Linked DNA regions of Homo sapiens. The protein of the gene in region 2 purifies or fractionates together with the protein of the main gene of each other region. This does not show direct contact. Each region holds a gene or a part of one and is shown on either strand. Other genes may lie near its edges.

The links.
Region 1: the proteins of PTPN3 (region 2) and VANGL2 purify together in Homo sapiens (affinity purification with mass spectrometry; 3 studies listed by BioGRID and IntAct, with this or other methods). This does not show direct contact.
Region 3: the proteins of PTPN3 (region 2) and SHKBP1 purify together in Homo sapiens (affinity purification with mass spectrometry; 4 studies listed by BioGRID and IntAct, with this or other methods). This does not show direct contact.
Region 4: the proteins of PTPN3 (region 2) and KCTD3 purify together in Homo sapiens (affinity purification with mass spectrometry; 4 studies listed by BioGRID and IntAct, with this or other methods). This does not show direct contact.

Annotation. Positions count from the first base shown.
Region 1 is NC_000001.11:160,410,515-160,417,825, reverse strand, and holds part of VANGL2 (vang-like protein 2), read right to left. Parts: intron 2,179-7,311; 5' UTR 1,989-2,178; coding exon 1,918-1,988; intron 1,765-1,917; coding exon 1,644-1,764; intron 1-1,643. UniProt on the Homo sapiens protein: Involved in the control of early morphogenesis and patterning of both axial midline structures and the development of neural plate. Plays a role in the regulation of planar cell polarity, particularly in the orientation of stereociliary bundles in the cochlea.
Region 2 is NC_000009.12:109,418,294-109,425,604, reverse strand, and holds part of PTPN3 (tyrosine-protein phosphatase non-receptor type 3), read left to right. Parts: intron 1-2,752; coding exon 2,753-2,887; intron 2,888-4,119; exon of another isoform or gene 4,120-4,371; intron 4,372-5,004; coding exon 5,005-5,181; intron 5,182-7,311.
Region 3 is NC_000019.10:40,579,612-40,586,922, reverse strand, and holds part of SHKBP1 (SH3KBP1-binding protein 1), read right to left. Parts: intron 6,600-7,311; coding exon 6,438-6,599; intron 6,358-6,437; coding exon 6,267-6,357; intron 6,178-6,266; coding exon 5,987-6,177; intron 4,573-5,986; coding exon 4,457-4,572; intron 3,526-4,456; coding exon 3,438-3,525; intron 3,323-3,437; coding exon 3,206-3,322; intron 180-3,205; coding exon of another isoform or gene 150-179; coding exon 1-149.
Region 4 is NC_000001.11:215,577,059-215,584,369, reverse strand, and holds part of KCTD3 (BTB/POZ domain-containing protein KCTD3), read right to left. Parts: intron 6,701-7,311; coding exon 6,642-6,700; intron 6,442-6,641; exon of another isoform or gene 6,380-6,441; coding exon of another isoform or gene 6,370-6,379; coding exon 6,289-6,369; intron 5,371-6,288; coding exon 5,233-5,370; intron 4,462-5,232; coding exon 4,371-4,461; intron 1-4,370. UniProt on the Homo sapiens protein: Accessory subunit of potassium/sodium hyperpolarization-activated cyclic nucleotide-gated channel 3 (HCN3) up-regulating its cell-surface expression and current density without affecting its voltage dependence and kinetics.

The DNA.
Region 1 (7,311 bases), on a different chromosome or scaffold from region 2:
ATGAACTGAGGCACCCAAGGGCTATGAGAGCAGAGGATCCCTGTGCAGAAGCACAGCAAGGTGCAACCAGGAAGGTAAGGCAGACAGCAGCCAGGCAGGGCTTGTGCAGGCCACGCTGCAGTGCTGGGCTGGGCAATAAGCACCTGTTCTCCAGGCATGGAGAGCCACTGAAGGAGTAAACCTGATCAAAGCAGCACAGAGAAGAACAGAAGACCCCAGGGGTAAAGGGGTGAAGGCGTGAAGGACACTGTGCAGACTCAAGGCCACTCTGGGTCTCTGGTCTGCAAGGCCACCTCTGCTGGGCCATCTAAATGTCTACAGTGCAGAGGCTACCTGTCTCTGGAGGCAAGAAGGTGGCCAGGCTGAGGTCCCCAGGTGTCCCTCTAAGTGTGGTCTGCTCAAGCTGTTTCTCTGCAGTGGCTGGAGGCCATCCCACGGAGGAGTCCCAAGACCACCAGCTGCCTTCAGCACCCACCCTTCGCTCCTGGGACAGCCTGGGGATATGGAATCACAACCTGACACCCAGGAGGTTGAGGTTACAGGATGAAGGCAGCCCGACAGCACCAGTGATTAGGGAGGTTGAGGAACCTCCTCTCTACAGGATGGGGAACGAGTCTGATGTGAAGATAGAAAGCAGATGCACTGACTGCCTTCAGCTCAAAGCCCTGGGTCTGCTCCCCGCCCTCTGACCCCTAGACATACTGCCCACCCCCTCCAAGGACCAAGGGCTTGGGATCTCCTCCCCAGTAGCAGGTGAGCTGGTCATGTCTCAGGGTCACTTCAAGAACTCAGGAGGCCAGGCCCCAGGAAGAAGGGATTGGGAGAGAGGGAAAAAGAACATTTCCTTCAGGTATTGACCTGCTCCCAAGGCCCAGGAATTCCCAATGTCAGCCACAGAGATTTCTTCTGAGGAAAAAGGAGCTGGGAATCTCCAGCCCCCAAAGATGATCCCAAGGGGAATGAGACTTGGGCAACCTCAGTGTCACCTAAAATCCTGCCTCTGCCCTATTCCAGGACTGTGTTCTGCCCACTGTCCTCCCTACCAGGTGAGCACAGTGGGCAGCAGAGGTTAGAATAGAAAACCTGCTCACCCCTGTCCTGGAGAACTCTCTCCTGGGGTCCCTGCTCCATCCCTCAGCCTTACTTCTTGTCCCTTGGGCTTTCTCCATCTACTCTTCCCATACTCCTTTCCCAAGATCTAGGTGACGCCATTCTACAGGCTGACACCAGAGGGCACAGAGTGCCCACATCTCGAGGCTCCAGGAATACTCAGCTTTGCTCACACATACCCCAGGCCCAGCCACCACCACCACCCTCCTGCTCCAGACTCCCAGCGGGCCTGACTGGCTGGCGGCAGCTCCAGAGGAGCTGGCCAATTCCCATCATACAGCCCAGGTCACCCCCCACTCCTCTGGAGATAAGGAAGGAGAGGCTGCTGCTTCCAGAGGGATCTCTATACTGAAATTCCTGAAGGTCCTACCTTAAGACACTAAGCCAAGCTAAGTGTAACACAAAACACACTCCCCGATCTGATGGCTGTCTGAGACCAGGTTTCCAAGCCCTCCCCCACTCCGTGGAGCCTCCAGCCCCTCAGGAGCAGTCTGAAAATGCCCGGTCTGGACCACCGCATCCCCAGTGCTCACCCGCTCATCCCCTCGTGTGGACTCATTGTCCAGCAGGGGCTCCCCGGGAGCCTGGATTGTCACCGACTTGTCCCCTCGGCCCCCATCTCGACTCTTAGAGCGGTGTCGGTCCCGGCGGTCCCTGCGGCAGGAAGCCAGAAAAGGCACAGAAAGTCCAGTGGTGGACCAGGGTCTTCTCAGCAGCCACTCTACCCTACCACCCCTGCACGTGCCCACCTCTTAACAGCCCCCAACCCTCCCTCCGCCACGCATGTCACCCTGCATGCCTGCCCACCTGTGCTTGCGGGAGCTGCGGGAGTGGCCCGACTTGTAGGAATAGCCCGAGTACTGGGACTCGGTGTCCATGGCGTCTGAACGCCGCGCCTTGTAGCGCTCCAGGGCCGCAGGCTGGGGCCTCTTGGGGGGCCCCACAGCCACCTCCTTCAGCACCGGCTTCTTTAGGCCAAGAGGCACCTTCAGGAAGTCAACTGTCACCCTGAGGGACTCTATTTTGCTGGACGGGTGGGCTTGTCTCAGAGAAAATCCAGCGACGCTCCTGGTGAGAGGAAGAAGCTAGTTAGAGGCGGCTCGAGCTCCCTGTGGGGTCAGGGCAGAGGAAGACCATCTGCACACAACAGCCACAGGAGGCTCAAATGAGCCCAGCCATAGCCTGAGAATATCTCCACCCAGGTTCCTGCTGTCCACTGGGCCCAGTTCCTCCTACCCTTCTCTAGAAAGAGCCCTGCCAGGCTGTGCCAAGGACTCAGGCATGGGGGAAGATGGCCAGCAAAGGCTCCCAGGGCAGGAAGGCTCACCCAGAATGACCCAACCCCAAGCCCTCTGGAAGGGAGGAGCAGGGCATTGCTTCCCTATTCTCAGCCAGGGAAACCGAGGCATGAAGAGGGCAGGTTCTGGCCAGGCCAACAGGCTGAATCAGTGGACACCTCAGAGAGCAGAAAGGAGCGGGCTTCTGTCCAGGGGCTACCCCAGGCCTCTTCTCCCCATGCTACACCTCCTCCCCTCACTCATACTTTCTGAGTGTGCCCACAGTGGGCTGCTTCCCTTGATACCATCTCCCCAGCATTTACTTCAAACACACCCAGTGTTACCGGTAAGATCAGGCTGGCAGCTTCCTTGAGGTTGCCACACATATGCACAGCCCCAGGTGAGGGTGAGGGGTGGAAACTATGGATAATATGGTAGGGGATGGGAGGAGAAGACAAGTTTCTACTTGCCTGAAGTTCTGAAACAGGCAAGGCACAAGTTTATCTGCCTATTTATAGGCTTATCTTCAACCATACTTCACCTTCTGATTCTGCAGAGGAGAATGACCTCTCCTCTCTCTAACCCCCACCCAAATCCTGCTCATTCTTCAGAGCCCGGCCCCACCCCCTCATAGGAGCCCCCACCTACTCTAGACCCAATGTTATCTTCCCTGCTGACCCTGACTCCCCTAACAGCCATCACCATCCACCGAGCGCTTACTTCCTATCTTCAGTCATTGACGCATCAAATCTTGTTTGAGCACCTTCTATGAACCATGTATTCTGCTAGGTATAAAGTGGTATAACAGACCCTGAGTTTACAGTCTAGCAGGGAAGGGGCACACCAAACAAGTAAGCAGATAAGTATAAACGACCGATTGCAGGCATGATGGAAGGGCAGAACAGCAAACTATGAGAGACACCCATGGAGTAAGGGCTACCACTTTAAACTTAGCGGTTCTAGAAAGTCTGAGAAAAGGACACCTCAGCAGAGGCCTGAAGAAGAAATAGGAATTAACCAAGCAAAGAGTGCAGGAAAATGCCCATGGAGCAGAGGAATCACATGTGTGAAGGCCAAAGGCAGGAAAGAGCTTGTTGTATTTAAAGAACCAACAAAGGCCAGTGGAGCTAGAGTTGAGGAAGAGAGTGGGTGGTAGAAGGTGGCACTGCAGAGACAGCCAGGCACCAGGTGAAGAGCTTGAGCTTTATTTTATTCTAAGGCCACAGGAAAACTTTGAAGGATTTTAGCTATGCAGATATGGATTGAAAAGAGGGAAAAATAGAAACAGGGAGATCAATAAGGAGGCGACTGCAGTAGTACAGGCTTGCTAAGGGTAGAGCCACAGAAGAGTGAGTAACAGTCATGTTTGAGACTTAATGTTGGTGGTCAAATCAACAGGACCTAATGAGCGGGAAGGGAGAGTTAAGAATCCCCGGCCTGAGCAAGGGAGCAGATGGTAGCACCATCAGTAGGGTAGGGAAGACTGGGGAGGAAGCAGCCTTGTGAGGGAAGATAATTAGTTCAGCTTCTAGCCTGCTAAGTTAGTGGCCATGAGACAGTAGGCAGCCAGGTGTCAGACGAGCCAGACTTGGAGGACAGTCTGAGCTGGAGGTACTGAGTGTGTGAAAAGCTATGGGGATAGATAGAACTCAGATCCAGCTGAGTTCAAAACCTAACTCTTCCATGGACATAAAGGACCCCAATAGGTAGACATGTCCAGAGGAAAAGGAGCAGGCAAAGGGGATGAGAAGGCCAGAGGAGGAGGGGAGCCAGAAGAGTGGGGTCTCAAGGCAGCCAGAAATTTAACAGTGTTTTGAGGTGGGAATTAAGTCAACCAGGTCAAATGCTGCTGAGAGGCTGATTATGTTAAAAACTAAAATGGGGCCGGGTAATCCCAGCCTGTAATCCCAGCACTTTAGGAGGCCAAGGCGGGTGGATCACGAGGTCAGGAGTTCAAGACCAGCCTGGCCAAGATGATGAAACCCCGTCTCTACTAAAAAGCATGGTGGCAGGTGCCTGTAATCCCAGCTACTTAGGAGGCTGAGGCAGAGAACTGCTTGAACCTGGGAGGTGGAGGTTGCAGTGAGCCGAGATCATGCCACTACACTCCAGCCTGGGCGACAGAACGAGACTCCGTCTCAAAAAAAAAAAAAACCTAAAATGGATTTGCTTTGTATCATTACCTTTACTCCAACTACTCTAAACCATCAGTAATTTGAGAATAAGCAATATGATTGATACATATTTATATCCATCTCGCCTCCCATGGGCACAGAGCAAGGAACTGATACCAACCTAGTAAATGAACATAGTCATGCCTCGCTTAACCACAGGGATACTTTCTGAGAAATGTGTCATTAGGCAGCTGCATCCTGGGAACATCATAGAATGTACCTACACAAACCTTGACGGTATAGCCTACTACACACATAGGCCTTATGGTATAGCCTATTGCTCCCAGGCTACAAACCTGTACAGCATGTTACTGTACTGAACACTGTAGCCAACTGTAACACAATGGTAAGTACTTGTGTACCTAAACATAGAAAAAGTACAGTAAAAATACAATAGTATAATTTTATGGGACCACCATCATATATGTGGTCCATCGTTGACCAAAACATCCATGACTGTATGCCTCTCTGGCTCTCAGGGAAACTATAATGACTGTAGGGAGATGAAAGCATGTGAAATCTATTCATTCATCTTCTTAACAGAGTTCAATGGAGGCAATCCTCCATAGGATTAGTTATATTTGTCAGTATCCCCATGTCAAAGCACGTGCGTGATAAGGACACACTTAGAGGACAGGGACATAATACCTTAACCCAACCATAAGCCTTTCCAAAAAACTTTGCAGCAAAAATGACCCTTATTTATCCCCCTACCTGAAAAATATATGTTGGGCTCATCTACCCACTCTCCTGAGGACCCATTCTACTGGCCTACTCCTCCTTATAGTTTAGACATCTGACCTGCATTTCTCTTGTGGTTCCAGCCTATTCTTTCTAGTCTTCTTCATAAAAACTGAATTTTGCTAGGAGGCTCAAAGGCAACGAGTGGGTCACAGAGTGACATGGGGGTAGAGAAGGGGGTGGAGAAGTAAACAACTGCCACGGACTAGAGTCTAGACACACACACTAGATCCCAGGCTGTCCATCTCCTCATCCTCCTGTATACCCATCATCTGCCAAAGCCAACAGCCAGAAGAGCCAGAGATGTGCACTCAAAGATCTGAGTTCAAAACCTAACTCTTCCACTGACTAGCTGTGTGACTATGTGCAAGTTACTTAACACCTCTGTGCTTGTAGCCTGGTAAGCTCATTAGTAAAATAGTGAAGACAATGATGCCTTTTCATGGGGTAGCCGTAAGGATCACGAGGGTGAAAGAAGTGCTTTTATAAATGGTTCAGCTAGTAATTAGTTAAGCAATTAACAAGTTTTAGCTCCAGGATCACTCATACTCCAATCCTCAGACACTTCCTCTGAGACTAGGGAAAGAGGTGGTATAAATAAACCCTGCTGTTAGTACAACTAAATAAAGAAGTCTCACACATACACACACACACACACACCAACCAGAACCACCACTTCAAACACACCCAGAAGGTAAACTGATGCCATTTCATTTCCCCTACAGATAAATTTCAAACCAGACAAGGGTACCAGTCCCCTTTTGTTCTGAGCTGCCCAGCCTAGTGCCCCCTATCTTCCTCCCCTGCTACTTACTAAAGACTCAACATGAATCCTGCTCCCCTGGCCTGCCAACCCAAGTCAGAGTGCCCAAAAAGCACCAAAACACGCTTGTCTCCTCCCTACCAAACACAGGTGCCAAAAATGAACCCGACTTCTGAGACCCTTGCCTGCTGTGTCTTCAAGTACACCAGGGAACTAATCCAAGCACTGCTGCTGGGGGGCCTGGGAGGAGGGAGGAGAGGGGAGTAAAGAGAAGGGCAGAAGTTCCCCTTATTTAATCAGTCTCAGGGATCAGGGGTTTGGAGGGTCCCCTGGGTGGGCAGCGTTCCCAGGGAAGAGATGGGGGGAGGGGATGGCTGGATGAGATCAACAAGTGGAAACGTCAAGAGGGATGACGAGACAGGGAGGGAAGTCCGGACTTGGTGCAGGACAGGGAGCTGCCCTAGTCTGGGGAAGGGGGAGGCTATAGAAAAGGAATGTGCCCCACTGCCTTTCACCTTGCCCCCCACTTCCCAAGACACAAACACACACACTCAGTCCCCTGCTCAAACCAACCATGGATTATCTGGGGTTAAAATGAGGCCAGGGAGGAGAGAGGGAGAGAAGAGAGAGCCTGTTACAAAAAGGAGACCCTTCTCCCCTCCAAAGGCCTTTCAGAAATAAAATTAATGGAATGTGTCTCAGTATCATCCCAAGGGGATTGGGGGGGAGCTTGGCAGGGGGGAATGTGGGGGCTTTTGTCCCTGCTGCCCAGCTTCTCCCACATTGATCACCATGGCAACAAAAGCCCCCTGTTGCCTAGGTGATGGCAGCCGGGTCCTGGAACCCATACCCAGCATCCAAAGGGAGGGAGGTTATGGAGGTGGGGGCAATAGGGACAGAGGAGGAGAGAATGGGGTTTCTCCTCTGGCGGCCCCAGCTTTTGTCTGAGCTCTGGGATCAGGTTTCTTCAGGAAACAATTGGAGGCCTCTGGAAAAAATACACTCAGAACCTGGCAACAGGCAGAGGGAGCAGGGCCCTAGAGTAGTGCGTGCGTGCGTGCGTGTGTGTGTGTGTGTGTGTGTGTATAAGGGGGGTGGGTGTTGGCCAAAACACAGACCAGGGCGGACCAACCCTTTCCCATTTCCCACTCAAAGGAGGCGGCTCAAGTGGGCAAGGCGTTGAACACAAACGCCAGCACCCCCATGTGTGGCGCGTGCTGGGGGCCGATGACCAGACGCAGGCAGC
Region 2 (7,311 bases):
CAAGTAGCTGGGATTACAGGTGCCCACCACCACGCCCAGCTGATTTTTGCATTTTTAGTAGAGACAGGGTTTCACCACATTGGGCAGGCTGCTCTCGAACTCCTGACCTCAGGTGATCTGCCTGCCTCGGCCTCCCAAAGTGTTGGGGTTACAGGCATGAGCCACCGTGCCAGGCCATATTTTCTAAATCATTTGTTGGTTTTTCAAAATTGTTTTCGTGATTTGTTGTTGATGTGGCTATTACTAACTAAATGAGACCCGTGTCTGAGCCATTATCTTTCTGATAGGTGGAACTGCATCAGACTGTTCCAGTTACTTTCCTAATACATTGATAATCATTAGGGAACTTGTAAACTGAATAAGTAGCTAATTTCTGTTAGTATCAGTGATACTATTTGTGGTGCTAAATGCTATCTCTCAGCTTCTGATGAACCAAGAGTGAATATATTAAGTTTTTAGCTCTTATAATACTGTTTAGTATTTGTATACATTCAGTAGATCTACTGTTGAGCAAGCCATGAAAATAACTTACTGGATTATATCATTGACTTAGGTTGGGCCTGATCCTCAGGCCAGATGAGAGAAGGAATGGGGAGGCAACTGAAACCATGCCCTCTGTTGCTGAGCTGCCTGGGTTCAAATCCTGCCTCTGTCACTTGAGCTTTAATTTGTTGCTTCTATTTCTTCATCTGCAAAGCTTTGTCATCTGCATGCATCCAATGCCAGCAGGGCTGGGTTCTGGTCTTGTATTGTGGCACAAGAAAATACCCCTATTTTGGTGACTGAAAGCAACACCCATTCTGTTATATCTCATGACTTTGTGAGTCAGGAATCCTAGAAGGGCTTGGCCAGAGGCCTCTTCTGCTCTGTGTGGTGTAGATAGGGATTTCTCAGTGAATGTGGCCAGAGGATCCAAGATAACTTCTCTTGCATACCTGGTGTCTTGATGGAATGGTTGGAAGGCTGGACTCACCTGGACTCCTTAGCATCCCCATCTGGATACTCCAGGAGGGTGGTTGAATTTCTTACATGGACACTCAGGGTTCCAGGAGCGAAAGGCAGAACCGTTCAGCCTTCTTAAGGGTGAGACCTGGCACTGGCACAGCGACTCTGTTGCTGAAAGCAGTCACAAGCCAACCCAGATGCAAGACTCAAAGAACTTGCAGTCATCTTTAATCTGCCACAGGGGATCATTTGGGTTGGGAGGATGGCTTGGGAGGACAAGTCAGCAGTTCTTTTACTACCTGTGCCAGCTTCAGCATACTGGTGAATTTCAAGTCTCATTACCTCCATTTTACAGATGAGGACACTGAGGCTTAGAAGGGTCACATGACTTGCCCAGCCCCTAGAGATACAGATACACATCTGCTTATTGGGCCTTCTGAAAGGTTCCACATAAAAAGAAATTTGTTGGGTTATTTTCCAAGCTTATGGGACAATGGAACACTTTTTTTTCAGAGAGTCCCTATTAATAACCCATGACACATTAAACCTTGGAGTTGGGCAGTTTGCTCCCCTTGTTTTGATCCTGTGCTCTTCATCACTGGCAGTGTGGTTTCTGATGTAGGCCTGCCTCAGAGGAAAGAGTCTCCCAGTGATGCTGTTGTGAGCATTTTGATCAGGGTGACAACAGCATTTCTTAATGTGAATTAGTACATGATGTGCTACAGGGCGATTCATATTGTTTATGTTCTTTTGTTTGTTCTTTGTTCTGTTTTGTTTTTGTTGGTTGGTTGATGTCATGTCACAAGGAAATGTGTAGAATGTTTTCATAAGACATTAAATCCTAGTTTAAAATTTAGAGATGCCAGAACCAAAGTTGTCACCCTTTAACAGGGTGACAGGCTTCATGCTCTATTCTCTCAAATAATTCATTCTCTGAGGGGTCTAGATAGCTAAGATTTAAATTCTCTAGGTATAAATAAAATTCAAAAGTAACCTTCAGGGTAGCACATTTCAAAGAACGTAGCCTGAAACTCTGTATAATTTTTTGTTTTTGGAGACAGAGTCTTACTGTGTTCCCCAGACTGGAGTGCAGTGGTGCGATCTTGGCTCGCTGCAACCTCTGTCTCGGGGATTCAGGGGGTTCTCATGCCTCAGCCTCCCAAGTAGCTGGAATTATAGGCATGCGCCACTATACCTGGCTAATTTTTTGTATTTTTAGTAGAGGTAGGGTTTTGCCATGTTGGCCAGGCTGGTCTTGAACTCCTGACCTCAAGTGATCCACCCGCCTCAGCCTCCCAAAATGCTGGGATTGCAGGCATGAGCCACTGTGCCCAGTTTGAAACTACTTTCTAAGCGCATTTTCAGATTCTCTCTCAAAGATTTACCAGTGATTTATAGTGACAGCTCCTGCCAGCTAGGATGATGAAGAGCACCTGAAAAAATGGTTAATATTTTTACTTAGGCCAGTGTGAATAAAATAAGAATTCCTTGAAATCACTGGAGCTGTATTTCTGTGTGATCCTGGAATTCCTTCTAATCTGGTTAGGTTTGGTTATATTCTGGAAACAGCTTTGTTGCTTGAGTAGTGAGGACAAGAAAGGATTTTCACCCGAAGAGAAGAAATCACATAAGGAAATTCCAGGACAGACAGGAATCGCTTTTGAGCTGTCTCCCTCTACTCCCCATAACCTTGGCATTAACCTGCCGTCCTTCAGACAAGAAGCATGTGTAGACTGTTTCACACATGCAGTAATTTCTTTCCTGTTGAACGTCAGTGTAGAAAGTGAACCTGCATCTGGTTTTTCAGGTCGGTAAATAACCAATATTGCAAAAAGGTGATTGGCGGGATGGTGTGGAACCCAGCCATGCGGAGATCCTTATCAGTGGAGCACTTAGAAACCAAGAGTCTGCCTTCTCGTTCCCCTCCCATTACTCCCAACTGGTATGTCCTCCTTTTTTTTTTTTTTGTACTACCCAACAGTAGACACTTTATCTCTTTTAAAAATAAAAACTCAACTTATAAACTCCTAAAGATAGATGACCTACAATTTGCATTTTAGGCTCTTGGCAGAAGTAACTGTTTTCATGAAGTACACAAGTCTAGCTAAATGTTTTCCATCGTGTATAATGCTGAGATGCTCTTTTTAAAAAAACTTATTCAATCTAAATAGTTTGGGAAACTCGAGCCTGCTGAAAGGCCTCCTTTGGAATCACAGCACACATTAGCATATTAAACACTCTGAGACGTCCAATAATAAAAAAGTACGGTTAGCTTTACTTAATTCATGTTTTCCATTAATATCCCACAAAATAAACTTTAGGGAAAACTAACGCAGGTACGTGATGTAAATGATGTAAGGATGTATGACCTTCAGCAGCAGAAGCAAATGCACATCAGTAAGTAGCAGGCCAACTTAAGAGGATGGACTCAGCTTAAAAAGAAATAGGTGGTCGTTTGGTAAAGTGAGAAGGGCACTGGGTTTGTAGCAGAAAGACCTAAACTCAGGTTTTGGCCCTTCTGTTAATTAACAAGTTTCTTTACCTCTGTAGCCTCAGTTTCCCCATATCTAAAAAGATGATAAAAACTACCGCAAATGAAATAATAATGTACAAGTACGTAGTAAGCTTTTAAAAGAGTCAGGTGGAATTATCATTATCTTATTATAATGGTCCTCAAAGACATCACACCATTTTTGTGAATACCTCCAAAAAGGCTAGGGGCCAGAGGGGAAACCTAGCAGGGAATCATTGCCCCCAGCTCCACACTGGAGTAAGAGTGCGTGGCTGTAAATACCTGATCCAGGATCTGCTAAGCCTAAGAGAAACTGGGAGACAGGCAGACAGAGGAGATGCTGTGCTGGGCCTGCTAGGGAAGGACCCCTTCACTGGGGGCCTAATGCTCTGGGAAGGGACAGTGATAGTATTTAGTGTTAGAAATCATGACGTAACTGAATAGATTTGCTTCTTGGTTTCCAACATTTAGATACCTCATTCTAAAGAGGTAAATTTATGCTATAACACAGCAGCTTAATTTATCTGAAAATCTCATCGGCAGCAATGCCAGGGGCCCAGAGAGCCCAGGACTGGATCCAGGGGAACAGCGGGGTTGGATGTTGCCACACTCGTGGCCCGGAGCTCCTGTGGCTATTTATAGGTCCTCTCCTGAGGAGTCACAAGAGCCTTTTTACTTCTGCTTTGGACACAGCATTATTGATTATCCAGGCCCAGGGGGATTGCAAATCATGGAGGCCCTGACAGTCCTGAGGAGAAATGGCTAACAAAGAAAGGGAAGATGGAAAAACTGTGAGGGAAAATAGAACTTAGAAAGCTTGGCAGCTTGGGATCCCCCGCTGCAGGAGCTGACGCCCAGGTGCCACACTGGATGCCCTGAGAACACGGCCTCATTGGATTCATTCTCAGGAGCAGGTAAGTACAGCCGAGGCCCAGAGAGGTGACGTGCCTTGCCCAAGGTCACATGCCTACTGCCACTGTTGGAGGACAGTCCAGTGTTTATATGCCCATCTAATGCATATAAACGTGTTTAATAAGGGATATATCTTAAAAAGCAAACATTTTCTCTTGGATCAAGTGAAATTCACATGAAGGGATGTCGTTGAAATAAGGTTGGAGTTTTGCTGAGAAATGTAGTTTGGCTTCTAACCCTTTTGTTTGCATTGTTCAAATTAATCAGAAAAATTATCTGAATAGCAGTCCATATGGCCTATTTATGTTTTGAGAGCTTGAGTCCTCCTGGAAGAATAACTTACCCTTAAGTCAATACCCGTCACTTCCCAAAGGGCATAAACCCATCTAATTCTGCCTGTTTATACAGCTGAGGCTACTGTTTTGGGAGCCACCACTTGACTGAGAGTGTTAGGGATTTGTGTCACCCTTGGTGCCTTCTGCTGGGGTAGTAATGAGTTAACCGGCTCTGAATGTCAGCCTCCGCCAAGGAAGGCATCCTTAGAAAGGTCAGGACACGAGGTTCACTGGTGTCTAATAAAATTTTTAAGTGGAATTTGCTTTGAACACTTTGCACTCAACGTTTTTCCCACCCAGGCGAAGTCCTCGGCTCCGGCACGAAATCCGAAAGCCACGCCACTCTTCTGCAGATAACCTTGCAAATGAAATGACCTACATCACGGAAACGGAAGATGTATTTTACACGTACAAGGGCTCTCTGGCCCCTCAAGACAGCGATTCTGAAGTTTCTCAGAACCGAAGCCCGCACCAAGAGTAAGAAACTCGTGTTGTTTTATTTCTGGGTATTTGCTTTTTGGCTGTTGCGGAATTTGCTCAGGTCCAGGTTGCCATTTGAGAGGAACCAAGAGCTGGTGCCTGCAGCCAGCTCCCACAGGTGCCTTCTGCCAGGATAAGAACATAAATCAGACTCTACCTTTTCACCCGGAAGACGGTCTATGTGCCTGGGGTCTAGAGCTTGTACTTCTTTTTGTCCACGACAAAGACTTCCTAGTCACTAAGTACTTGTTAGTCTCTTGAATTAGTCTCCTCTCCAGCTCACAAGCAAAGCCCAGTTTAATCATTCCCTGTTCTGGAGGTACAGACTCTAGGGCCATGCTAACTCTGATTTCTCTAGATTATTAAAGTTTTACCATCACATGATTTCAAATCATTGGAAATATGCTTGCTTCTAAAAGCCTTCTCCGAACAACAGGGTTCTGAGGGGTTTTGTTTTCAATTAATAGTTAGTATAAAGAAACAAACGTTAGAACATCTCTAATTTTCTTTGAGAAATTTTTTGTTAAATTTTTATGTCCTACCTCCCCCACCCCGCTTTTTTAACGTGACAGAGTTCCCTCATAGCTCAAGGACAGAAAAAATGTCTGTCCTGAAAGATGGTTGAGTGCTTTTGTTATTCAATAGGATATATTTAACCCATTTGTTTCCCTTTTTGCCTTGGTTACCAGGGAGTTCAGAACTGCACATTAGGCTCAATTGTATTCACTTCCCTCAGCCCAGATTTCTTGTATAGGACCTTCTCTTCCTCATTTGCCTTTGTTATATGGGTCTTTTTTTTCTTATTTTAATGGATTCATAGTTACATATCTGTACGTTTTGGGGTAAACTCGCAAATCATTTTTTTAAGTAGGTAAGACATAGATTATAAATTAGGTTAAAGCATGATAGTAAAGGATCAACTGTTAGGAAATCAACCATAGTCATTGGGTATCTATTCTGTTAAGCCCCATACTATTTCTAAAATATAGTAAGATAATGGCCCCCCTAACAGCTGAGGATTAGCAAGCAGGCACGTTAGTTAATCTGTAAATTTTTTACCACTGTAGCTATTAGGCTGAAAGCATCAAATGCACCCTGATTGGACTCCAGGCATTTGCAGGTGAATTGCAAATCTCCTTCCCATTTGTATGTGAGGCTGCTACCTCTCCTCTGTCCTTGCCCACAGCAAACATGGTTTCCAGTTTATCTGTGTTCTTAACACCTCTGGTTAAATAATCCCTGTGGTCATTCTTTCCTTGTGACCTGAGCTTGGATGATGCTTTTGCTAAATGATTGCTATCTCTTGTTCCAACTTGCAGCCTGCTGCCCCTTTGTCAGGGCTACAGTGGATGATTGTGAGTTCCTTTGTGTGACTTTGTAGCTTTTCAAACCACAAGCACATCTAGAAATACAAAGCAGGAGTGCAGGCATGCGTGACTAGAGCCGTTTTGAGTCTGCAGTGGGGGCTCTGCGGCTTTGGCAAAAGGAGAAAACGGTTTAGGGAAGCGTTGGAGGGCTCTGGGAAGCCCACTCACACCTGCTGCGTCAGAGCTTCCTGTGGTGGTTTGCAGTCCCATCACAGAATTGTACAGCATCTAAACCTTCCCTGTCCAGTACAGCAGCCACCAGCCCCAGTTGTCTATTCAGATTTAAATTAATTAAAATAATAAAAATGTAGGCATTCAGTTCCTCAGTCACATGAGCCTCATTTGAATTGCTTGACAGCCACACAGGAGTGTTGGCCTCCATCTTGGACAGCACAGATACAGCCCATTCCCATCACTGCAGAAAGTGTTGTCAGCAGCACTCATCTAGACTAACACGTTTATTCCATCGTTCATTTAAAGGGTGAACCCCTAGAATATCTACAAGCGAAAAGTGCATTTTTCACACAGAATTCATGTGGGAGTAGGTTTGGAATCATCACCTTGCTTGCAGTCTGGGCGCTCCACACCACTCACCCAGCTGCTCATCTGTGGCATGGGGCAGGTGGATAGCCTCTGAGTGCCCTCACAGCCCAGCACCCTCTGTCTCTTTATGCAATCAGTGCCAGGTGGGGAGGGATGCATTCTGTCCAATGACATGCAGGCACTTTAGAGGGCTTGCATTCATTCCCAAGTCCAGCGG
Region 3 (7,311 bases), on a different chromosome or scaffold from region 2:
CAGCATGATCTTGGTGACAGGGCTGCGGTGCACAGTGAAGGTCTGGAAGAGCTGAGGCCCCGAGCCCACAGTCTCCGGGTGCTGCACGATGACCCGCACGCCCCCTGAGCTGGTGCCATAGGCGATCTCGATCCAGTTCCCACTGTCACCTGGTGAGGGGCCAAGGATGAGGAGAGGGCCTGGGCCACAGAGACAGAAACCAGGGCAGGGAGAAAGAAACAGGCACAGAACAGAGACACAGTCAGAAAGCAAGGAGAGGCCGGGCACGGTGGCTCACGCCGTAATCCCATCACTTTGGGAAGCTGAGGCGGGTGGATCGCTTGAGGTCAGGCGTTCAAGACCAGCCTGGCCAACGTGCTGAAACCCTGTCTCTAGTAAAAATACAAAAATTAGCTGGTGGTGGTAGTACGCACCTGTAATCCCAGCTACTCAGAAGGCTGAGGCATGAGAATTGCTTGAACCCAGGAGGCAGAGGTTGCAATGAGCCAAGACCACGCCACTGCACTCCAGCCTGCATGACAGAATGTGACTCTGTCTCAAAAAAAAAAAAAGAAAGAAAGAAAGAAAGAGACACAGAACAGAGACACAGTCAGAAAGCAAGGAGAGAGGGAAGGACACAAAAAGATGGTGATGAGATGTGGGAAATGGAGGAACAGGGAGACAAAGGCACAGGTCAAAGGAGGAGAGGCCCAGAGACAGAAATTGTAACAGTGAAACAGCAAATAAGAGAGGAAAGAGAAAGTAAAACAGAGAACAGAGGCCGAGGCAGGAAGATTGCTTGAGGCCAGGCGTTTGAGGCCAGCCTGGGCAACATAGTGAGACCCTCATCTCTACAAAAGATTTTTAAAAAACTAGTTGGGTGTGATGGCATTCACCTATGATCCCAGCTACTCAAGAGGCTGAAGTAGGAGGATCACTTGAGCCCAGGGGGTGAGGCTGCAGTGAGCTATGATTGCGCCACTGCACTCCAGCCTAGGTGACGAAGCGAGACTGTCTCAAAAAACAAAGAAAAATGACATAATAGTGGCATGTGGCGGGAAGGGAGATGAGGAGGAAATGAGTAAGTAAGTGAAATAAGAAAGAGGCCGGGTGCAGCAGCCCATGCCTGTAATTCCAGCACTTTGGGAGACGACGAGAGGAGAATCCCAGGAGTTCAAAACTTGCTTAGCCAACGTGGCAAAACCCTGCCTCTACTAAAAACACAAAAATTAGCTGGGCATGGTGGCAGGCACCCGTAATCCCAGCTACTTGGGAGGCTGAGTCTGGAGAATTGCTTGAACCCAGGAGGCAGAGGTTGTAGTGAGCTGAGATTGCGCCATTGCACTCCAGCCTGGGTTGAATGACAGAGCGATACTCTGTCTCAGGAAAAGACAAAAAAAAAAAAAAAGAAAGAAAGAAAAAAAAGAAATAAGAAAAGGGCCTTACAAAGAAGAAAGGTGATAATGTGTCATGAAGTTAGGTGTATTATTAACTTATTTCTGCTTTAAAAAAAAAAGAAAAGCAGCAGCAGCAGCTATGGCCAAGCACAGTGACTCAAGTCTGTATTTCCAGCACTTTGGAGGCCAAAGTGTGAGGATCACTTGAGCCCAGGAGTTCAAGAGTAGCCTGGGCAACATGGCAAAACCCTGTCTCTACAAAAAAATACAAAAATTAGACAGGTGTGGTGATGCATGCCTGTGGTTCTGCTGTTCAGGAGGTTGAGGTAGAAGAATCGCTTGAGCCCGAGTGGCGGAGGTGGCAGAGAACTCACATCATGCCACTGCACTCTAGCCTGGGCAACAGAGCAAGACCCTGTCTCTATTTTTTTTTAAAAAAGAATAATCCCTGCTTCACACCATACATAAAATTTAATTTCTGATAGAACAGACTTCCATGTAAAAACTAAACTGTAAATCTTCTAGAAGAAATTCAGGAGAAGATCTTTGTAACCTAGAATAGGTAAGGATATCTTAAGACCCAGAAAACACTAACCATTTAAAAAAATATGCTAAGTGAAAAATGCAGACACAAAAGACCATATAATGTATGATCCCATTTACAGGAATTGTCCAGAACAGGCAAATCCATAGGTATAGGAAGCATATTGAGCCTGGCCAACGTGGCGTAACCCAGTCTCTACTTAAAGTAGAAAAATTAGCCAGGCATGGTGATGCACACCTGTAATCCTCCCCTACTCAGGAAGCTGAGGCATGAGAATCGCTTGAACCCAAGAGGCAGAGATTGCAGTGAGCTGAGATCATGCCACTGCACTCCAGCCTGGGCAGCAGAGCGAGACCTTGTCTCAAACAAAAAGAGAAAGCATATTAGTGATTTCTAGAGGGTATCAGAAGTGAGAAATGTGGAGTTACTGCTAAAGATCAGGGGGTTTCTTACGGGGGTGATGAACATACTCTGGAATTTGTTCATGGTGATAGTTGTACAACCTTGTGAATATACTAAAATCCGCTGAATTGTGCACGTTCAAATGGGAAATTTTATGGTATGAGAATTACGTCTCAAAAATTAACCCATTCTGCATTTGATGTCAAGAAAACAAAACAAAAAACTGTCTCAAGTAAGAGAACTCAGGTTCATCTGCTGTAAAACCTGCATCTGTGTTGTTTTATGAACATGTGAACATCATGCCTTAATCACAAAGGTGGGAAAGAAACACAAAGATTAACTCCTAATGGTCCATTCTGCCCCTAGTGGAGAGGGTGGCCACCATCTAGCACCTAGAACGTGCTTATATACAGGGATACTCAGTAAATATTTGTTGAATGACTGGATGAGAGTTGAATCTGGCTGGGCGCGGTGGCTCACGTCTGTAATCCCAGTACTTTGGGGGGCTGAGGCGGGAGGATCATCTGAGGTCAGGAGTTCAAGACCAGCCTGGCCAACATGGTGAAACCCCATCTCTACTAAAACTACAAAAATTAGCCAGGCGTGGCAGTGGGCGCCTGTAATCCTAGCTACTTGGGAGGCTGAGGCAGGAGAATCGCTTGAACTCAGGAGGTGGAGGTTGCAGTGAGCCAAGATTGCACCACTGCACTCCAGCCTGGGCAACAGAATGAGAGTCTGTCTCAGAAAAAAAAATGAGAGAGAGTTGAATCTGCCGCCCCTCGATAAACCCCTCTGGGTCATGCTACACAAGTTGGGGGACAGCTGCAGGCTGGGGCTGGGGCTGGCAGGTGACAGCAGCAGGGGAAGCCGGGTCATAGCTTACTGGTCTTGGGGGTGAGGTAGACACTGAGGGCGGTGACCCCATCCTCCGCTGGGTCCCGATAGAGCTCGCTGACAAGGAGGTCGTTGTCTTTCATGCGCAAGGGGAACTTCTGCACATCTGGGGTGGGCAGGGAGGGTGGAGCGGGTTTGTTCCAAGTGCCCCAGCCTCTCTCCCTCCCTTCCCCTCTCCCAGGGGAGGGTCTCGGGCACCCGGGACACAGGCTGCTGCTCACCCACGTAGTAAATGGAGCCGTTGTTGCAGCCCAGGAGGAGGAAGGAGCCTGCCGCGTCATAACTGGTGATGGGCTGCACCTCCTGGACCTGGGGGTGGGGCAGGACAGGCTGCAGCCGGGAGCCCTTCCATTCCTTTCCTTCCGTGGTGACCCCTCACAGAGGATGGGCCCTCTCCTCCACCTCCAGAACCCACCCACTGCTCCCCAGCCCCGTCCACCCCAGGCCTGCCTTTGTCCCTGTCTTGTTCCCTCCCTTCCTCCCTTTGATGCATCTGTCTGTCTGACTCTTGGCCTCTCCTGGACTCTGTACTTTTTAAAGTTTTAATTTTTTAAATTTTTTGTAGAGACAGAGTCTTATTATGTTTCCCAGGCTGGCGTCAAACTCCTGGGCTCAAGCCATCCTCTTGCCTCGGCCTCCCAAAGTGCTGGGATTACGGGCGGGAGTCACTGCACCCGGCCTCCACTATGTACTTCTGACATGACTCTAATTCATCTCCATTTATCTCTCTGAGTTCCCCCATCTGCCACAGTGGTTCAGTCTGGTTTGACTCTGTCTACCCTTCTCTGTCACCTCTTTCTGATTTTCTATTTCTATTTGCCTGGTTTTCTGCCTCTCTGTCTCTTTCTCTGCCTCTGTCTGTCTTTCTCCCAAAGCCATCCTCCCACCTCAGCCTCCCAAAGTGCTGGGATTACAAGTGTGAGCCACCGAGCCAAGCCAGTTCTTGTCTTCTACAGCATCCCCCCTAACCTGCTCTCTCACCCAGTCCCAAGACAATCCTCCCTACTCCTTTTCAAACCCATTCATGCTTCATGTGGGCTCTGCAGCACCTCCTCCAGGAAGGCTTCCCTGGTGCTCCTTAGGCCTTTATCACAGACATCCCCAGGCTCTGGCCAGCTGCTGGTTCTCTGGCTTCCTCCAGGCTTAGGGGGTGGGGGTGGGGGCAGACGTGAACCCCTTCCTGGGTCTGTACAGTCTGGAAAACTGGGAAGGGGGCAGCCAGGCTGGCCAGAACTCTGACCTGCCAGTGCTTGGTGACGGCATTCCACACCCCGATGCGCCCTGTGTGGCTTGTAGCAATGAGCTGGTTCCCGACGAAGAACAAGGCCTCCACAGGCACCCCCAGATGAAAGACCCCTGCAGTGGGCAAAAAGGGCTCAGCTGGAACCCTGCCTCATGGAGGAGGAGAGGTGGGAGGAAGAACTCCAAGGACCAGAGGGTTCAGTGGGACCACAGAATCCTTGAAGGATAGAAGATTCCATCAGGGGCTGGGCACAGTGGCTCACACCTGTAATCCCAACACTTTGAGAGGCTCAGGTGGGCGGATCATTTGAGGCCAGGAGTTTGAGACCAGCCTGGCCAACATGATGAAACTCCATCTCTACTAAAAAATATAAAAATTAGCTGAGTGTGGTAGCACACAACTGTAGCCCCAGCTACTTGGGAGGTTGAGGAAGGAGAATTGCGTGACCCCAGGAGGCAGAGGTTGCAGTGAGCCGAGATCATACCACTGTACTCCAATCTGGGCAACAGAGAATGACTCCATTTCAAAAAAAAAAAAAGTGAAGATTCCAGCAGGAATTAGAGAAGATAAAATGGGCCAGAAGATTTCTGATGGGGTATGGGATTCTAAAACGGTCTGGAATTCTAACAGCACTGAGATTTGCAATAAGGCAAAAAAACCTCCACTGGTGGCAGGGGATTCTTACGAGGGCTGAGATTTATTTGGGGACAGATTAATAAGTCCGAGATTTGTTGCTGTGGCTTTGAGACAGGGTCTTGCTCTGTTGTCCAGGCTGGAGTGCAGTGGTGCAATCATGGCTTACATAGCTCACGGCAGCCTCGAACTCCTGGCCTCAAGCAATCCTCCTGCCATGGCCTCCCAAAGTGCTGGAACTACAGATGTGAGTTACTGTGCCCAGCCATAAGTCAGAGATTTCTTTTTTTGTTTTTTTTTTTTTTTTGAGATGGTGTCTCACTCTGTCCACTCTGTCGCTCAGGCTGGAATGCAGTGGTGCGATCTCAGCTCACTGCAACATCTGCCTCCCAGGTTCCAGTGATTCTCCTGCCTTAACCTCCTGAGTAGCTGGGATTACAGGCACGTGCCACCACACCCAGCTAATTTTTTTGTATTTTTGAAATAAAGACTGGGTTTCACCCTGTTGGCCAAGGGGGTCTCGAACTCCTGACCTCAAGTGATCTGCCCGCCTCAGCCTCCCAAAGTGCTGGGATTACAAGCATGAGCCACCGCACCGGGCCAAGTCAGACATTTCTCATGGCCACACAGAATAGCGCATTCTAACAAAACCAAGAGATCTAACAGGGCAGGGAATTCTGATGGAGGGAGAATTGTATGTGGGTGGATTTTTCTAGGAAGCCAGGGAATTCTAACAGGATACAGAATTCTGAAGGGCTGGAGCATTCTAATGACACAAACAGATCTAATAGAGCAGAGAATTCTTATGGGTTTGAGGATTTTATGGGGTGGGTCATTTTAACAGGCAGTAGAATTTAAAGGACAGAGGGTTCTGGAAAAGGCTTGGGGTCATACCTATCTCGGAGCCACCGCCTTCCGCCTGCAGAGCCCATAGCAGGATCTCGCTGCCGGTGGCTGCTGCCACCATCTTGTCATGTTCACCCAAAGCCCCACCATGCACCCGGGCTGTGAGCGCCAGTCGTTCGATGGGCCAGTCCAGGCGGGGGCTGGAAAACACCAGCTGCCAGCCAGAGGCTTCCTTCAACCTGTAGGATCGAGGGGACATCACCAACCCTCACCGCATGCCCTTCCCATCAACAGGGCTGGGACCTCCTGCCACTCCCTCCCCAAGCACCTGTAGCAGACTAGAAACTGGGTATAGGCCACAGCGATCCAATTATGGTGTCCACACACCAGGCGCACCATCCCCGGCTCCTCAGGTTGTCCTTGAGGGGAAGAGTAGGGATCAGAAGAGGGTCACAGGGACCCCACAGCTGCCCCAACCTTCCACGAGATAGAAACGTACCTGAGGGTGAGGGAGGGGTTTTCTCATCCAGCATTCGGCCCAGCAGCCCTGCATTGCCAAGGTTGGGGGGCATCGTGTTGCTCCGTCGGACAGGGGCTGGCCGTCCTCCTAGCTGCTGAGGCCCCACTAGGCTGTGCCGGTTCCGCCGCTTCACTGGGAACACTACAGTGAGAATAAGAGGTAGAGTAACAGTCATTGTAATCGTGGCTGTCACACAGCAAGCACTTAAAATATGACGGTGATTGATTTCCCCATGTGTGGGACATAGTCTCCGGGTGAAGATTTTAAGTGGTGCAGTGACACAGCATGAAATGACACTGAACCACATAGCAAGTTACTTCCCTTTCAGTTCCCTTGAGCCCAGCACAGAGGAAGACTGAGTTTAGTGCTGCTGTGATATTAATGAATCTGCAGTATTACCTAATTTTCCGTTTTTTTTTTTTTTTTTTTTTTTGAGTTGGAGTTTCGCTCGTTGCACAGGCTGGAGTGCAATGGCACAATCTTGGCTCACTGCAACCTCTGCCTCCTGGGTTCAAGTGATTCTCCTGCCTCAGCCTCCCAAGTAGCTGAGATTACAAGCACCCACCACGACACATGGCTAATCTTTTATATTTTTGGCAGAGATAAGGTTTCACCATGTTGGCCAGGCTGGTCTCGAACTCCTGACCTCAGGTGATCCACCCACCTCAGCCTCCCAAAGTGCTGGGATTACAGGCATGAGCCAATGTGCCTGGCCCTAATTTTCACTTTTAATAAATGGAAGACTGCACCCTTGGCAAGCAATAGCATCTAGCCAGAGTTGTTTTTCGTTTTGTTTTGTTTTGAGACAGCATCTCGCTCTGTCACCCAGGCTGGGGTGTAATGAGTGATCATA
Region 4 (7,311 bases), on a different chromosome or scaffold from region 2:
TAATCAGGCCAAGTATAATAAGACTAAAGCTTATTTTGCAAACAAATCAGTCCTACCATGATTTCTTTAGTAAAAATGAAAGACTGAAAATAGGAAAATTGTTTCAAAAACTATGGTATGCTTTTTATTAGATTTGTCTCATCAGTAGTTTTTGAGTTCTTTCTGCAATTTGGACTCATCCTGCTTATCCTTGTGGACCAAGCAGTGATCTGTGGCTGCTGTTCAGAAGAAACAAGAGGCATGGGTAACACAGAAATCTGGATCAGTATTCTAATTGTGGGCATGTATTGGAATTGGCTAGCACATCAGCTTGGTTCCAACTCCATATCAGCTTGGTTACAACAATTTCCCAGTTCATGAAAAGCCTTCTTATTTAGTTTACTTGGGATAATTTTACTTATTTTGCCTTGTTATTGTAGAATATACTGCTGTTGTTCTCTTTGTGTAGGAATGCAAGATAAGCTTACTCAGTGCTTTCTTAAATCGAACACTTATTAATTTTTCAGTCATCACTTTTTGTCAGAAATCAGAGTTCTCACCATACTGACAGTTTCTAACTGAGCTCTCCTCTACTCTGAATGCAGAAGACCCTAATAGGCAGAAATACCATCATCCCTATTCAGACTGCAGAAGTTACAGAAGATGAATCTTCCTCCCTCTGAAACCCTTAGGATTAAGAGTACCCTTGTAAAAGGGAAGGGGAAAACATGTCAGAGGTGTTCAAACCAGAGTTGAATGGGGACTGAGTAAAATAAGGCTGAGACCTGCTGGGCTGCATTCCCAGGAGGTTAGGCATTCTTAGTCACAGCGTAACAAGGAAGGTCAGCACAAGGTAAAGGTCACAAAGATCCCGCTGACAAAACAGGACGGAGTAAAGAAGCCAGCCAAAACTGAAACCAAGATGGCAACAAAAGTGACCTCTGGTCGTCCTCACTGCTCATTATACGCTAATTATAATGCATTATCATGCTAAAAGACACTCTCACCAGCCCCATGATAGTTTACAAATGACATCTAATGTCTGGAAGTTACCCTATATGGTCTAAAAAGGGGAGGAACATTCAGTTCTGGGAATTGCCTGCTCCTTTCTGAAACACTCATGAATAATCCACCCCTTATTTAGTATATAATCAAGAAATAACTGTAAGTATACTCAGTCAAGCAGCCCTCAGGGCTGCTCTGGCTATGGAGTAGCCATTCTTTTATTCCTTTACTTTCTTAATAAACTTGGATTCACTTAAAAAAAAAAACTATATAATCTCATCTTTTACAGACATATTACTTCTAAGTTGTTTTTCTCTATAGTAATTAGGGTATTACACAATAAAGAGATGTCAAAAAAGGATAAAAGAATCAGGACAGCATATTTAAAAATAACTATAACAACTACAGAATTTAACTCTTAATAAGATATGTGAATTTACCTGTTTTTTAAAAAATTACAAAGAAGGTACATATTTGCTCTATAACTTTCCATACAAGTAATACATTTAAAATATGTAGAACAAGGCCAGGCACAGTGGCTCACGCCTGGAATCCCAGCACTTTGGAAGGCTGAGGCGGGTGAATCACTTGAGATCAGGAGTTTGAAAACAGTCTGGCCAACATGGTGAAACCCCGTCTCTACTAAAAATACAAAAATTGGCCAGGTGTGGTGGTGCACACCTGTAGTCCCAGCTACTCAGGAGGCTGAGGTGGGAGAATTGCTTGAACCCAGGAGGCAGGTGTTGCAGTGACCCGAGATCACGCCACTGCACTCTAGCCTGGGTGACAGTGCAAGACTCTGTCTCAAAATCTCAAAAACAAAACAAAACAAAAAATATATAATAATAAATAAAACAAAATATAAAACAAGAATATGCTCTGTTATTTCACCTCTCCATCATCTTACTGCTGCCTAGTGAACCAACCCTCTGGTTAAGACAGCTATGCGAAGAATAGAGTTACGTCTAGTTATTTCCTACATGAAGACCTCAATAAAATACAGTAGAGAGGACATGCCCTGTGAGATTTTGAAACTTATTATGAACATACTTCACCTCAAGTTGTATGAGAATAGACATATGTCTTAAGGAAATGAGAGAACTGAAAAACAGATCCAAGTATATACACACACATAAAGCAAGATAAAATGGGCTATCAGATTCACTGACAAAGAATGATTTACGTAATAAATTGTCAGAACATAATTACCTACCCACTGAGAAGAAAATAAATCCTTAAATCTCATACCACATACAAAAAAGTAAACTCCACAAGGATTAAAGATCTAAAGTGGAATATAAGCCCCAAGGGGGCAGCAATTCACACAACTACTCTTCGTTAATAGAAGTAACACTGTCATAAACTCAGCAAGAAAAAGGGACATAAACATAAAACCTAACCATGTAGAAAATTAGTGAAGCTAGGAGAACATCATACAGGTCTTCACTGTACTACTCTTTTTTTAAAGGTTTTGTAACTTACTGATACAAAAACTTGAGGAAAAATAACTTGTAAAAAAGATTACACTTTTAAACAGTTTAAATATTTTTCTTTCTTTTGAAATCTTTTTATTGCCATTGTGTTGAATGATTTAACTATATGTGAGGAAATCCAAATATGTCCTCAATTGTCTTCCTTCGTCACTTTACATGAGTATATTGCTCTGAAATGTCAGACACTTGGTGAAAGCACAGAAAGATCGTGATCAATGCAAACGCAAAGACTGGAAAATGTAATAGCATCATCCTCCATACAATTATTACCCAGTGAGTTAAATTTTGCGTAATAATGTGGTGGTTCTGGAAAAGAGCAATCTTTAGTATTGTGTACAGTAACAAAACGGAAGTTATGCTGTTACACTTGGATCACTTATCATTTCACAATTCTTCTGGAATTCCTTATTGACAAAAATATGTACATAATATGTAAACAAGGGTCTACAAGTCACCTCAATTCAAATATATAAGATGATAAATTCAAAACAATGCTTCCTAAAAAAAAATTACTTTACCAAATTAGTCTTGCCTCATACAAAACCATCCCCAAAGAAATTATGCAAAAAACAATTTCCATGCTATTTCATAATTAAAATTACAAATCCACAAAACACTTTTTTTAAAAATTTGTTTATTTATTTATTGAGACAGAGTCTTGCTCTGTTGCGCAGGTTGGAGTACAATGGTGAGCTATCAGCTCACTGCAACCCCCACCTCCTGGGTTCAAGTGATTCTCCTGCCTCAGCCTCCCGAGTAGCTGGGATTACAGGCATGCATCACCACACCTGGCTAATTTTTGTATCTTCAGTAGAGATGGGGTTTCACCATGTTGGTCGGGCTGATCTTGAACTCCACCCATCTCGGCCTCCCAAAGTGCTGGGATTACAGGCGTGACCCACCGTGCCCAGCCAAAACACTCTTAAAACATAAAAGTCTGCACTTAATCATTACTACAAGGAAAATATAAACCTGAGATTACTGATATAAACAGCACTTACCAGACATGCCAAACCTTTCATAAATTCAGATTTTTAAAAAAAAAATACATCTGGGATTCTTTAAACTATATCTGTAAACTTTAGAAGACATTTTAGATATTTTTCAGCTTATTGTGACTATTTTTCTTAACCGAACTCAACAGTGATAAACAAATAGTTTATGTATCTTTGATTTTTCTGCAATTAAATGAAATAATAATCTAAGCTAGTATATTCCAACCACTTTTGTGCTTCTACACCATTCTCTGTCATCAACATTTCTCAATGAGTACAGTGATTTTGAACTAAGAGTCCTATCACTTTCCCAATTAAAAAAAAAAAAATCACCGGTCTACACTATTCTTCATTGCTTCTCAGGCTCTGAGAATGTAAGCATTAGTAAAACCAAACTACTTCTTTGTAAGTTTCACATATTAGATATTAAACTATACCACTTGTGCAATAACTGTCCTGCTTTACTACCTCACTTCCCAAAATGTGGTATTTATGACCAATGTACTCTCCCTTGCTATAGAATACAAAACACTGAATCATTAGAGATAGACCATCAGGGAGCTCACATTAATAATCCTGTCTAACATCATTATATACTACAGTCTCAGAAGCTAGGTATAAGCAATAAATAATACATCAGGATATCTCAGTTACATGACAATTCACACTTGTCTGCTAAATGTTTACAACAGATAAAGGCTATCAGAAACATTTACCAAATTAGCTGTGAAAATAAAAGTACACTAAATCTTAATCAGATGATACAGACATGGGTAAAATATGCAGGGAAAAAACTTGATGACTAAAAAAAAATAGCTTTTCAATCTAAAAATATAAAATCACAATTAATTTTCAAACTGCCACCTGTAAAAGCAAAGCATTATTAATTATACACTACCTGTAACACACAGCAAAATGGGCATATGCAGCTACAATCCAGTTGTGATGGCCAGCTACTATTAGCACCTTTCGTGGATCCACAGGAAATCCTGTTGATTTTGGAAAAAGAAATATTTTACATTCTAAACCGGGGGTTGGCAAATTACAGCCACCAGGCCAGTTTCAGCCTTCTGCCTGTTTTGGTTAATAGTTTTGTTAAGAGCCGGGCACAGTGGCTCACACCTGTAATCCCAGCACTTTGGGAGGCCGAGGCGGGCGGATCATGAGGTCAGGGGATCGAGACCATACTGGCTAACACGGTGAAACCTCATCTCTATTAAAAATACAAAAAATTAGTCTGGCATGGTGGCGGCCGCCTGTAGTCCCAGCTACTCCGGAGGCTGAGGCAGGAGAATGGCGTAAACCCAGGAGGCAGAGCTTGCAGTGAGCCAAGATGGCACCACTGCACTCCAGCCTGAGCGACAGAGCGAGACTCCGTCTCAAAAAAAAAAAAAAAAATAGTTTTGTTAGAACCCAGCCATGCTTACTTGTTACATATTGTCCATTATGTGTTCATGCTACAATGGCAAAGTTGAGTAGGTCTGACAGAGAACACGTGGCCCACAAAGCCTAAAATATTTAATCTCTGGCTCTTACCAGATAAATTTTGGCAACCCTGTTCTAAAGATTCAGAGAAGATAGAAGATTACACAACATTTTAAATAAAAATTAAGTGTTAAATGAGACCTTTCCAAGATATAAATGATAAATCTGGATAAAAAAGGAGATGAGGCAAAAATCTTTAAAAGTAATTACTCAATATCACCCAGCACTAAAAACATACGTATTTTTCTTTTTCTATTTCTGTAATCTTTGCTTACCTAGCCTAACAGTTTCTTCTCCCGTTCCAGAGAGAACAGGCTGTGTACCATTTCCCCGGGCTTCACCTTCTGTAGAATTTAGACCATTCCTAGAATCAGCAGATCTGACTGTGTTGTTTATTTTACGACTAGGAATACCTATAAAGAGAAGAAGAAAACAAATACATTCCTAAGTTCACCTTTCAAAAATTAAAAATATCACATTGTGACAAAGAAACAAAAATGTGAATTTCATTAAAGCCGAAATACATCTTCCAATATAGCAAATTATTACAAATAATTTAATTACAATTAAAAAATAAAATGAAAATGAAAAAAACAAAGACAAAGACAAAATTCTGTCAACAGATTTCTGGTATTGTCATACTGTTTACAATAAATAAGCTTTAGGTTACTGAATTAATGGGTAATTAATTCAGTCTGCCAGCCACTCTTTACAATTATGGTACAGGTATTATGTGTTAGGTACTATGTAATAATTTAACTGCTTTAGAACTGAAATTCCCCATACTTTCAAACATTTTTTATTTGACAGGGGAACATTTTTTAAAATGAAATCTTGCTCAGAAGTCCATTATAACACAGGTAAAATCAGGCTCTTCTAACTAAAGTGGGGCTGAGGTGACACTGACTTATCTCTGCAGAATTCCTTAAATTTTGCAAAAAAGCAGTTTGACAACCAGTGCTCTAACATATGGGTCAGCAAACTATGGGCCATGGAAAATCCAGCCCAATCAATGCTATTTATGTAAATAAAGTTGTAGTGGTTACAGTTAAACCTAGTCTTCATGTAGTATACACAGCGGAGTTAAGTGGCTGTCACAGAGATCCTCTGGCTCACAAAATCTATCTGGCTCTTTACAGAAAAAGTTTGCCAAACCCCTGCTCCAATATATAATGTGACTTAATTTCTATAAAAATCAAAAGTTCTTACCATTTCTAATAGATTTATAGACAAAAAACTCAATAATCAAGGAGCAGTTTTTCCTATTCATATGCTTGTACTTGCTTAATGATACAAGGAATTTTTTAAAAGATTTAATAAAGTGAAAATACCTGGTGGGGGCAAGTAACCATGAAAAAGGACACTGCCACAAGAGGAACGCTCCAATTCTTCACATAAGAGAAGCCTTCTTACTAAAAACATTTCAAAGCAAACTTGTCAAGAGTACATGCAAACAGAAAAACAGTACTCCATTTTTATTTTCTCTAGTTCAAGAGGATAAGGAAAGAAAAGGAAAATTTTAATTAAGTCAGAGTTGACAACATCTTTTTACTATGAAAATCCACAAAAACTAAGCACTGAACAAGTCCATCAAAAATTAGGACCTGATATAAACACATTTCATTTAGGGCAACTTTCATACATGAGTCAAATCATAAACACCAAATATTAAAAGAGCACATACCTAATGGAGTGATCCCGTAAAATTCTGCTTCATGCCTGAGAACATTAATACTCACTCCCCTACAAAGAAACAAATGATGTAAATTCTCTAACACTGGAAACCTGTATTATCATCTGACATGAAAGGAAAAAATTCTAGGTTCTTCATGTATATAGTCATAAGGCTTTAAAAATTATTTTCCTCCTAATACTCTTTATTTCTATTATCCTTAATCATTAAAAAGTGTAAATAAAAACTGCATGTGAACAAAAATATTCTGTTATCTACTTAAAAACCATTCATATATATACATATATATGAATTGGGTCACTAAAGGAGAGATTAGGGCTCTATCAGGCTAGTACAAATAAATTGTCTAGAAGGCAAACGATAGAATGGAAACCATTCTTTTATGGCATTAGTTGCTTTTAACTTTTTATCGCAATTATTTCTATACATATCTATCTTAATCTCCCCAATTACACTATAAATTCCCTGCGAGCATGATCTATTTCTGATCTATGTTTGTATACCTCACAGTGCCTAGCATAGTGCTTGTATAAAATAGTTATGTAATAAATATTTGTTGAACAAATAAAATAGAAAAAAAAAAAAGACTAGCCTTGGGAAGGGCTATGTTATCCAGATGAAATGATGCTACTTCATAGTAGTAAAGTTAAGTAACATGAAA